Homo sapiens: one gene and its partner. The protein of the gene in region 1 interacts with the protein of each later gene in a pairwise test. Each region holds a gene or a part of one and is shown on either strand. Other genes may lie near its edges. The genes, in order: EPS15L1 and SIM2.

What was found.
Region 2: the proteins of EPS15L1 (region 1) and SIM2 interact in a two-hybrid assay, tested with the Homo sapiens proteins (one large-scale study listed by BioGRID and IntAct).

The regions. Positions count from the first base shown.
Region 1 is NC_000019.10:16,419,772-16,423,584, reverse strand, and holds part of EPS15L1 (epidermal growth factor receptor substrate 15-like 1), read left to right. Parts: intron 1-2,108; coding exon 2,109-2,266; intron 2,267-3,813.
Region 2 is NC_000021.9:36,736,833-36,740,645, reverse strand, and holds part of SIM2 (single-minded homolog 2 long isoform), read right to left. Parts: intron 1-3,813. UniProt on the Homo sapiens protein: Transcription factor that may be a master gene of CNS development in cooperation with Arnt. It may have pleiotropic effects in the tissues expressed during development.

The DNA of each region.
Region 1 (3,813 bases):
TTTTTAAATATATAAGAGACAGGATCTTGCTCTGCTGCCCTGGCTGGAGTGCAGTGGTGCAATCACGGCTCATTGCTATCTCAACCTCCTGGGCTCAAGTGATCCTTCCACCTCAGCCTCCCTAGTAGCTGGAATAGGTGGATGCCACCACACCTAGCTAATTTTATTTATTTATTTATTTTGTAGAGATGGGGTCTTGCTGTGTTATGCTGGCTGGTCTTGAACTCCTGGGCTTGAGGGATCCTCCTGCCTTGGCCTCCCAAAGTGCTGAGATTACAGGCATGAGCACTGTGCCTGGCCTAGCTCCATGGATTTTGATAAATTGTTTGATCAAGTCCTTGCTGTACTTCATCACACATACTTGCTACGTGAAACCCCTGAACTAAGCTGATCTGGGTCACATGGTATCCCTTGTTTCCCAAGCTTGCTTTCTGATTTCCCTGAGTTGGTATCAGGAGCCTGTTAGATTTGGACATCACAGGAGACTCGTTCATGAAGAGTAAACGAGTTTAACCATTGTTTCCCAGTCTTGACCATGAGTCCCTTCTCCTCAATCCTATGGACATCTTCGGGTTGTCAACACTGTGAGAACTCTTTGAGAAATCCCCCCCCCCTTTTTTTTTCCCCGAGACGGAGTCTTGCTCTGTCGCCCAGGCTGGAGTGCAGTGGCACAATCTCAGCTCCCTGCAACTTCTGCCTCCCAGGTTCAAGCAATTCTCCTGCCTCAGCCTCCTGAGTAGCTGGGATCACAGGTGCCTACCACCACACCTGGCTAATTTTTCGTGTTTTTAGTAGAGAGGGGGTTTCACCATGTTGGCCAATCTGGTCTCAAACTCCTGGCCTCAGGTGATCCACCCACCTCAGCCTCCCAAAGTGCTGGGATTATAGGTGTGAGCCACTGCACCCAGCCTAAGAAATCCTTTCATAACTGAGAGGAATGACTTTGAGTGGCAGTTTCAGGCATCATGGCGTTCATTGAAGGTGAGGAGTGGAGTGGCTTTTCTGTACAGTTGCTGCGTGGAGAAGGAACAATCGATCCCTCCAGCCACATTTGCCTGTCCTTTTTCTCTCCACTCCCTCATCATCTAGATAATTCAATCAGGTGTTTATTCTCATTGCTATTATGAGATTGTTTAAAAGGAGTGATTTGTGTAAATATTTAAAAAAAAAGGGAAGAGGAAAAGCACGTCTAGAGTTCAGGACACAGATGCCGTGAACTGTGGCGTGGTGGGTGTATTGAAGGCCCGCGGTAATGCAGGTGGAGTAGGCCACGGAAGGGGCCTGCCCCTGAGTGCCTGAGGGGCCTCAATGCCTCTGAACCAGGAGGTGACCGGGCCCTGGTTGACCCATGATGGCGTTTGCCTCTCTCAAGTTAACTGTGAGCTGGTGGCGAGAGGGGTCGCACGTGCAGCGGGTGACCCAGCCCCAGGGCTGTGAACTTTGAGCTGCACTGGGCTCGTGGCTCCATCTGCCCTGGTGGGGTTGGGGCTGCATGAATGTTGGTGGGGCCTCGTGGGTGGTGGCCCTCTTGGATGGTGGTGTCTCATTTGTTACCTGTCAGTGACGTGTGTGTACTCACACCTTGGGGGTATCTTTGTTGTCTCAGGAGTGGGGCAGGGACATAGAAGGGTGGTCTTCAGAGTCCTGGGACAGGACACTTTGGCTGCCTGTAGGGCAGCCTTTGCGGGCTGAGGAGTGGGAGGACCAGGGAGGCTGGCATGTGGCCGGGCCGGTTCTCCAGGGACGGTCCTTCCAAGTGGGTGCTCGGGAGGGTCTTTCCTGGCATGCTTGAACCCATCCCCTGAAGATCACAGCCTCCCTCACACCCTGGGTGGCAGGGTGGATGGACAAGGAGAGCGGGTGATGGGGTGGAGAGAGGTGCAGACTGGCATCTGGGTGAGCTTCACAGAGCCAGCCTCAACCTGTCTCAGCCTCAGTTTTGCCAGTTACAGAACAAGGATCACATCTGCCCTCTTGGCTCATGGAAGTGAGGAGAGTTTGATGCCAAATGTGCATGGAAGTGCTTTAATCGCCCCATCATCAAAAAGCATGTGTCTGGGGGTCATAAAAAGCTTCCAGATTAACTGTTTTGCCAAAAACTGTTTCAGCCAACAGTGAACTGGGTGGTGCCCGTGGCAGACAAGATGCGATTTGATGAGATATTCCTGAAGACCGACCTGGACCTGGATGGCTACGTGAGTGGCCAGGAGGTGAAGGAGATCTTCATGCACTCGGGCCTCACCCAGAACCTTCTAGCACACATATGGTAAGGCCGGACAGGTGGCAGTTGTGGCTGTGGGTGGCTCCAGGGGGCCTGTGGGTGAAGACTGTGGAGGGTGGTGGTCAGGGGGCCCCCTCCAGCCTGTCACAGGCTTCCGCTGTGTCTGGCGTCCTTTATTCTCCCTGGCCTGACAGAGGCTGAGCAAGGTGCACGTGCCAAGGCTCGAAGCCCGCGCTCCGTGACGGTCAGTTCACTGTCTTTCAGTAGGAAGGGCCTCTGGTCCGTCTTAAGTGCTCCCAGGCCATTTGCTTACACAGCTGGGCCCTATTCTTGCTGGCTGTGATGCTGGCTCTAACAGGAGGCCTGGACTTTGTCACAGCCGCCTCCGGGAGGTGCGGGCAGCAGGGCCTTGGAGCCTCTAGCAGAGTGGCCTGGCAGGGTGAGGGCGGGGGCAGGAGGCCCTGCTCTGGAAAGGCCAGTGCTTTGGCTCCTGGCGGGAGGGTGAGCACAAGGAGACCCTGTCAGTGCCTCAGAGCCCAGTCGAGGAGTCGGCCTCAACCCCTCTTTCCCCCAGGGCTGGACACAGCCGACTTCATAGGGCTGGGGCACTCCTCTTGCCACTGGCCAGGGCTGAAGTCACTTTTGAGCTTGTTGCTCAGAGCCTTGTGGCCTTAGAGAAGGCTTCACTTGGGAGCTATCAAAAGGAAAGAATTGCTGGATAATTCTCGAGAGGCAAATACCTCCAAGTAGAGCAGTGAAATTCAGGATGTTACTTAGTGGCTTGGGGGAAATGACTGTCCTTAGTGGTAATTCACAGATGACCACACTGTGAGGTGGGAGCCTGAGAACTAGCTGTCGCAGAGTCATCACCCAAATGGCCAAGCCGCCTCCAACTGGCTAGGGACAGTGGGTCTCAGCTGCCTCAGATCCAGTGTCCCTTTTAGAAACCAACAAAACACAGTGTCCCCTTTATGACTCTGAAACCAACACACATACAGTTCCTGGTTAGCGCCCTGACACCCTGACTGTCATGTCTAGGGGTCAGTAGAGGGAAAGTAATTTATAATGCATGCTGCAATTGACACATGATGTAATGACATGGAAATGACACAGGAAATCACTAATCCACCTGGATCAAAAGAAGGAACTCAGAGGTCATTCCATGCGGGCAGCAAAGGGGAAGGAAAGGATGATCAGGCTCTTGAATAACCATGAGAAAAGAAGTCTAGATGTGTCTGCGAGTGGCTGGGGCGGGGCATGGCCCAATGTAGATGACACACCAGGAGGGACTGGGAGGAGGGGGAGCATGAAGACAGAGGCTTTTTCCCTGCGATGGCTGCCACCGTACGGGTCAGCAGAGCAGGATGTGGTGTCAGAGCCGGATGGCCGCTGACTGAGCCACCCCTAAGCTTGCTTCTCCTTCTTTCTCTCAGAACCTTCCACAGGTGGGCCTTGGAGCCCACACTCCTTGAGAGATGGCAGGAGCAGAGAAGGGGCGGGAGTGGAGAGGCAGCTGCAGCCCACGAGCAGGCTGGGGCCCGCAGGGGCAGACTGGGGAGAGACAGTGGCAGTATGAAATCGTCAGGGCCTCG
Region 2 (3,813 bases), on another chromosome or scaffold:
GTCTCTGCCCAAACACTCCTGGGCTGTCTGTGGCCCTTTACGGTTCCTTTTCACCTTGCAGATGGCTCTTTCTCATCCACATCAAAATATTTTGGTGCAAAAGAAAATGCTGCACGGAGTTATTCACCTTAATATATAGGGGGTTCGTACAGATTGATAAAAACACAAAGACCCTAAAAGCAATATAGGCAAAGATCAAAGAATAAATATAATGGGCAAAATGATGAACAAATGCCCAACTCCCTTGTTTAACTCAAAGGCAGATCCATCCATCAGATCAACAGACATTAAAATAGAAACAAACATTGTATGATTCCCTTTACATGAAACTTCCAGAATAGGCACATCCACAGAGTCCAAAAACAAATGAGTGGGTGCCAGGGGCTGAAGCACGAGGGGGACTGGGGTGACAGGCTCCTTTTGGGATGATGAAAACGTTCTGGAATTAAAGGTGATAGTTGTTCAACACTGTGAATATAACTAAAAAACACTGAAAATGGTGAGAAAGGTGAATTTTATCTAAAAAAAAAAAAAAATGAAAGGCCAACAGGTGACACCGGCTAATCTATGGTGAGTGGCATTTTCTCTTTCTTTCTTTCTTTCTTTCTTTCTTTCTTTCTTTCTTTCTTTCTTTCTCTCTTTCTTTCTTTCTTCTCTTCTTTCTCTTTTTTTTTTTTTGAGACAGAGTCTCTCTGTGTTGCTCAGGCTGGAGTGCAGTGGCATGATCTCACTGAAACCTGCCTCCTGGGTTCAAGCAATTCTCCTGCCTCAGCCTCCCCAGTTTTGCCAGGTTGGCCAGGCTGGTCTCAAACTCCTGACCTCAAGTGGTCCGCCTACCTTGCCCTCCCATAGTTTGCCATTATGGCAAACTATGCAGCCATTGCAGGTGTGAGCCACGGCGCCTGGCCCAGTGAGAGGCATTTTCATGTGTGATGGAAGGATGAGTTGGTGGAAAGCAGTCTGATAGCTCACACCCTCTGACACACTGATCTCACTTCTAGGAATTGATCCTATGGAAATTGTGAGCAGGTCTGTGTGTGCAAACACAGACTTACCTACAAAGGGTTTCATTGCAATATTGCTGAAAATTCAGGGAAAAGGGGTGGGGAGAGACTTAACTCTTCAACGGTAGGGAAAAGAGTAAATACATTATGGCAAACTATGCAGCCATTAAAATGATGATTAATAAGAAATTGTTATATTATGGGAAATGTGTGATACAATGTTAACAGAAGAAAAGACAAGATTCAGAAATGTGTAAAGTATAACCCTAATTATGAAAAAGTGGGCACGTGCATACACTACCCCCTCCAACAAACTGTGTGATCCTAGACTAGCTACCAACCCCCCTGTGACTCAATTTCCTCATTTATAAAAAAAGGATAATCAGTCCTTACTTCATATGGTTGTTGAAAGATTAGATGATCTATTTGAGGATTTAGAACACTGGCAGACACAGCTGAAGGGCTCAATACATATTAACTTTTATCTGACTGAAAATGACAGATAATTTTCACTTTCTTCTTTTCAGCTTTCCTTGACTTTCTAAATTTCCAACGAGGAGGAGGTTTAACCAGAATGAAATGGTTTTGTTTTTTACATGGGAGAGAAGATTGTGGGGGTTGGGAGGCAGGAATCCAGTCTCCATCAAGCCCCACCACCCCGTCAGGATGAACCTGGGGACATGAGGCAGTGTTGCGTAACGAGCATGCCACCGGCTGGAGAGGGGTCTCTCCCGGACCATGCAGAGAGCAGCGCTTTTCTGCCCAGGCTTAACATCTGCATCTCAGCCGACTCAGATCACTGCTCAAGGGTATAGGCAAAGGCCATGGCAAAGAGAGAAGCCTGACAATGCTTCTCCTTTGGGGGTTTGCTTCTCTAATGAAAAGATACATGGTGTCTACTTCCAGCTCATTTCACAGGATTGCCTCATTCTACCCCCACTACAACAGTGGGAGGTGGGAGGTGGGCAGCACCAGGAAACCGGGGCCAACAGAGCTTGAGGGCACAGCTGGAGTCCAGCCCAGGTGTCCTCAAAGTGGCAGCTGTGGGAGGAGGGAGCAGCGGCCTCTGGAAAGTTCTCTATAGCTATTAGGTTGGTATAGAAGTACTTGCGATTTTTGCCATTACTTTTTTTTTGGAGACGGAGTCTTGGCTTTGCCACCCAGGCTGGAGTGCAGTGGCATGAGCTCAGCTCACTGCAACCTCCGCCTCCCAGGTTCAAGTGATTCTCCTGCCTCAGCCTCCCGAGTAGCTGGGATTACAGGCACCCACGACCACACCCGGCTAATTTTTTGTAGTTTAGTAGAGACGGGGTTTCACTATGTTGGCCAGGCTGGTCTCTAACTCCTGACCTCATGATCTGCCTGCCTTGGCCTCCCAAAGTTCTGGGATTACAGGCGTGAGCCACCGCATCTGGCTGCTATTACTTTCAAAGTAATACATTGAATAATACGTATGGGGGTGAGGTGGGCTCACCTTTTAAGGGAGACTTGGCCAATTTGTTTATGGTCCAAAATAACCAAGAGATGCAGCAGGCTCAGACTGAGGATCCATCCACGGATTTCAAGAGGACTAGTGCTCGCTAAGCTCTTCAACCTCAAAATCTATTCAAGCCCTTAGGAATATGGCCCCATGCTTTTTTCTTTTTGCTTTTTTTTTGCTTTTTTTTTTTTTTTTTTTTTGAGACAGGGTCTTGCTCTTTTGCCCAGGCTGGAGTGCAGTGGTACAATCTCGGCTCACTGCAACCTCCGTCTCCTGGGTTCAAGAGATTCTCCCTGCCTCAGACTCCTGAATAGCTGGGATTACAGGCGAATGCCACCACGCCCGGCTAAGTTTTGTATTGTTTAGTAGAGACGGGGTTTCACCATGTTGGCCAGGCTGGTCTCAAACTCCTGACCCCAAGTGACCCGCCCGCCTTGGCCTCCCAAAGTGGACATTGAAATGTTTTAATAGCTGCACATGGCCTGTGTTCTCTTTGTGGTCTGGGCTTGGCCCATTCTGGGCAGGAGCCTACCTAGAGAGCCGGGTGAAATTCTCAACAACCTTGGAAGAATAGCCATGTGGACATCACGGTTCTTCCAAACCATGGACAGCCCAGTGTCCCATGACACAAACTGTCAGGTTTACTGACACTGATCCCTTCTCCACCTATGGACCAGGCTGTGCTCAGCCCCCCCTGAGGGTCTGGGTCAACAGATCACAAGCCTTTGCCAGCTCCCCCTACATACAAGAAAAAGTCTCCCAAACATGAAACAAAGAAAGCGGGGAGGCAGAGCTCGGCTTTCCTGAGGCCAGGCTGGAGCATGGTGCCTTTAATCAGCCACCTCAGGTGGTGGGTGAGGCGTGGGGTGGGAGGGTCACAGTGGTTCCATTTATGATGATCCCGTGTTCACTTTTCTTTACAGAATGTTCTGGGGCCGGGTATGGTGGCTCATGCCTGTAATCCCAACACTTTGGGAGGTCAAGATGGGAGGATCACTTGAACACAGGAGCTTAAGCCCAGCCTGGGCAACATAGCAAGACCCCATCTTTACCAAAAACATTTAAAAATTCGCTGGGTATGGTGGTACATGCCTGTAGTCCCAGCTACTCAGGAGGCTGAGGCAGGAGGATCACTTCAGGCCAGAAGTTCAAGGTTAGAGTGAGCTCCGACCACGCTACTGTATTCCAGACTGGGTGACAGAGTGAGACCCTGTCTCTAAAAAATAAAAATGAAGAAAGAGAGAGAAAGAACGAAAGAAAAAGAAAGAAAAAGAAAAGGAAGGAAGAAAGAAAGAAAGAAAAAGAAAGAAAGAAAAGAAAGAGAAAGAA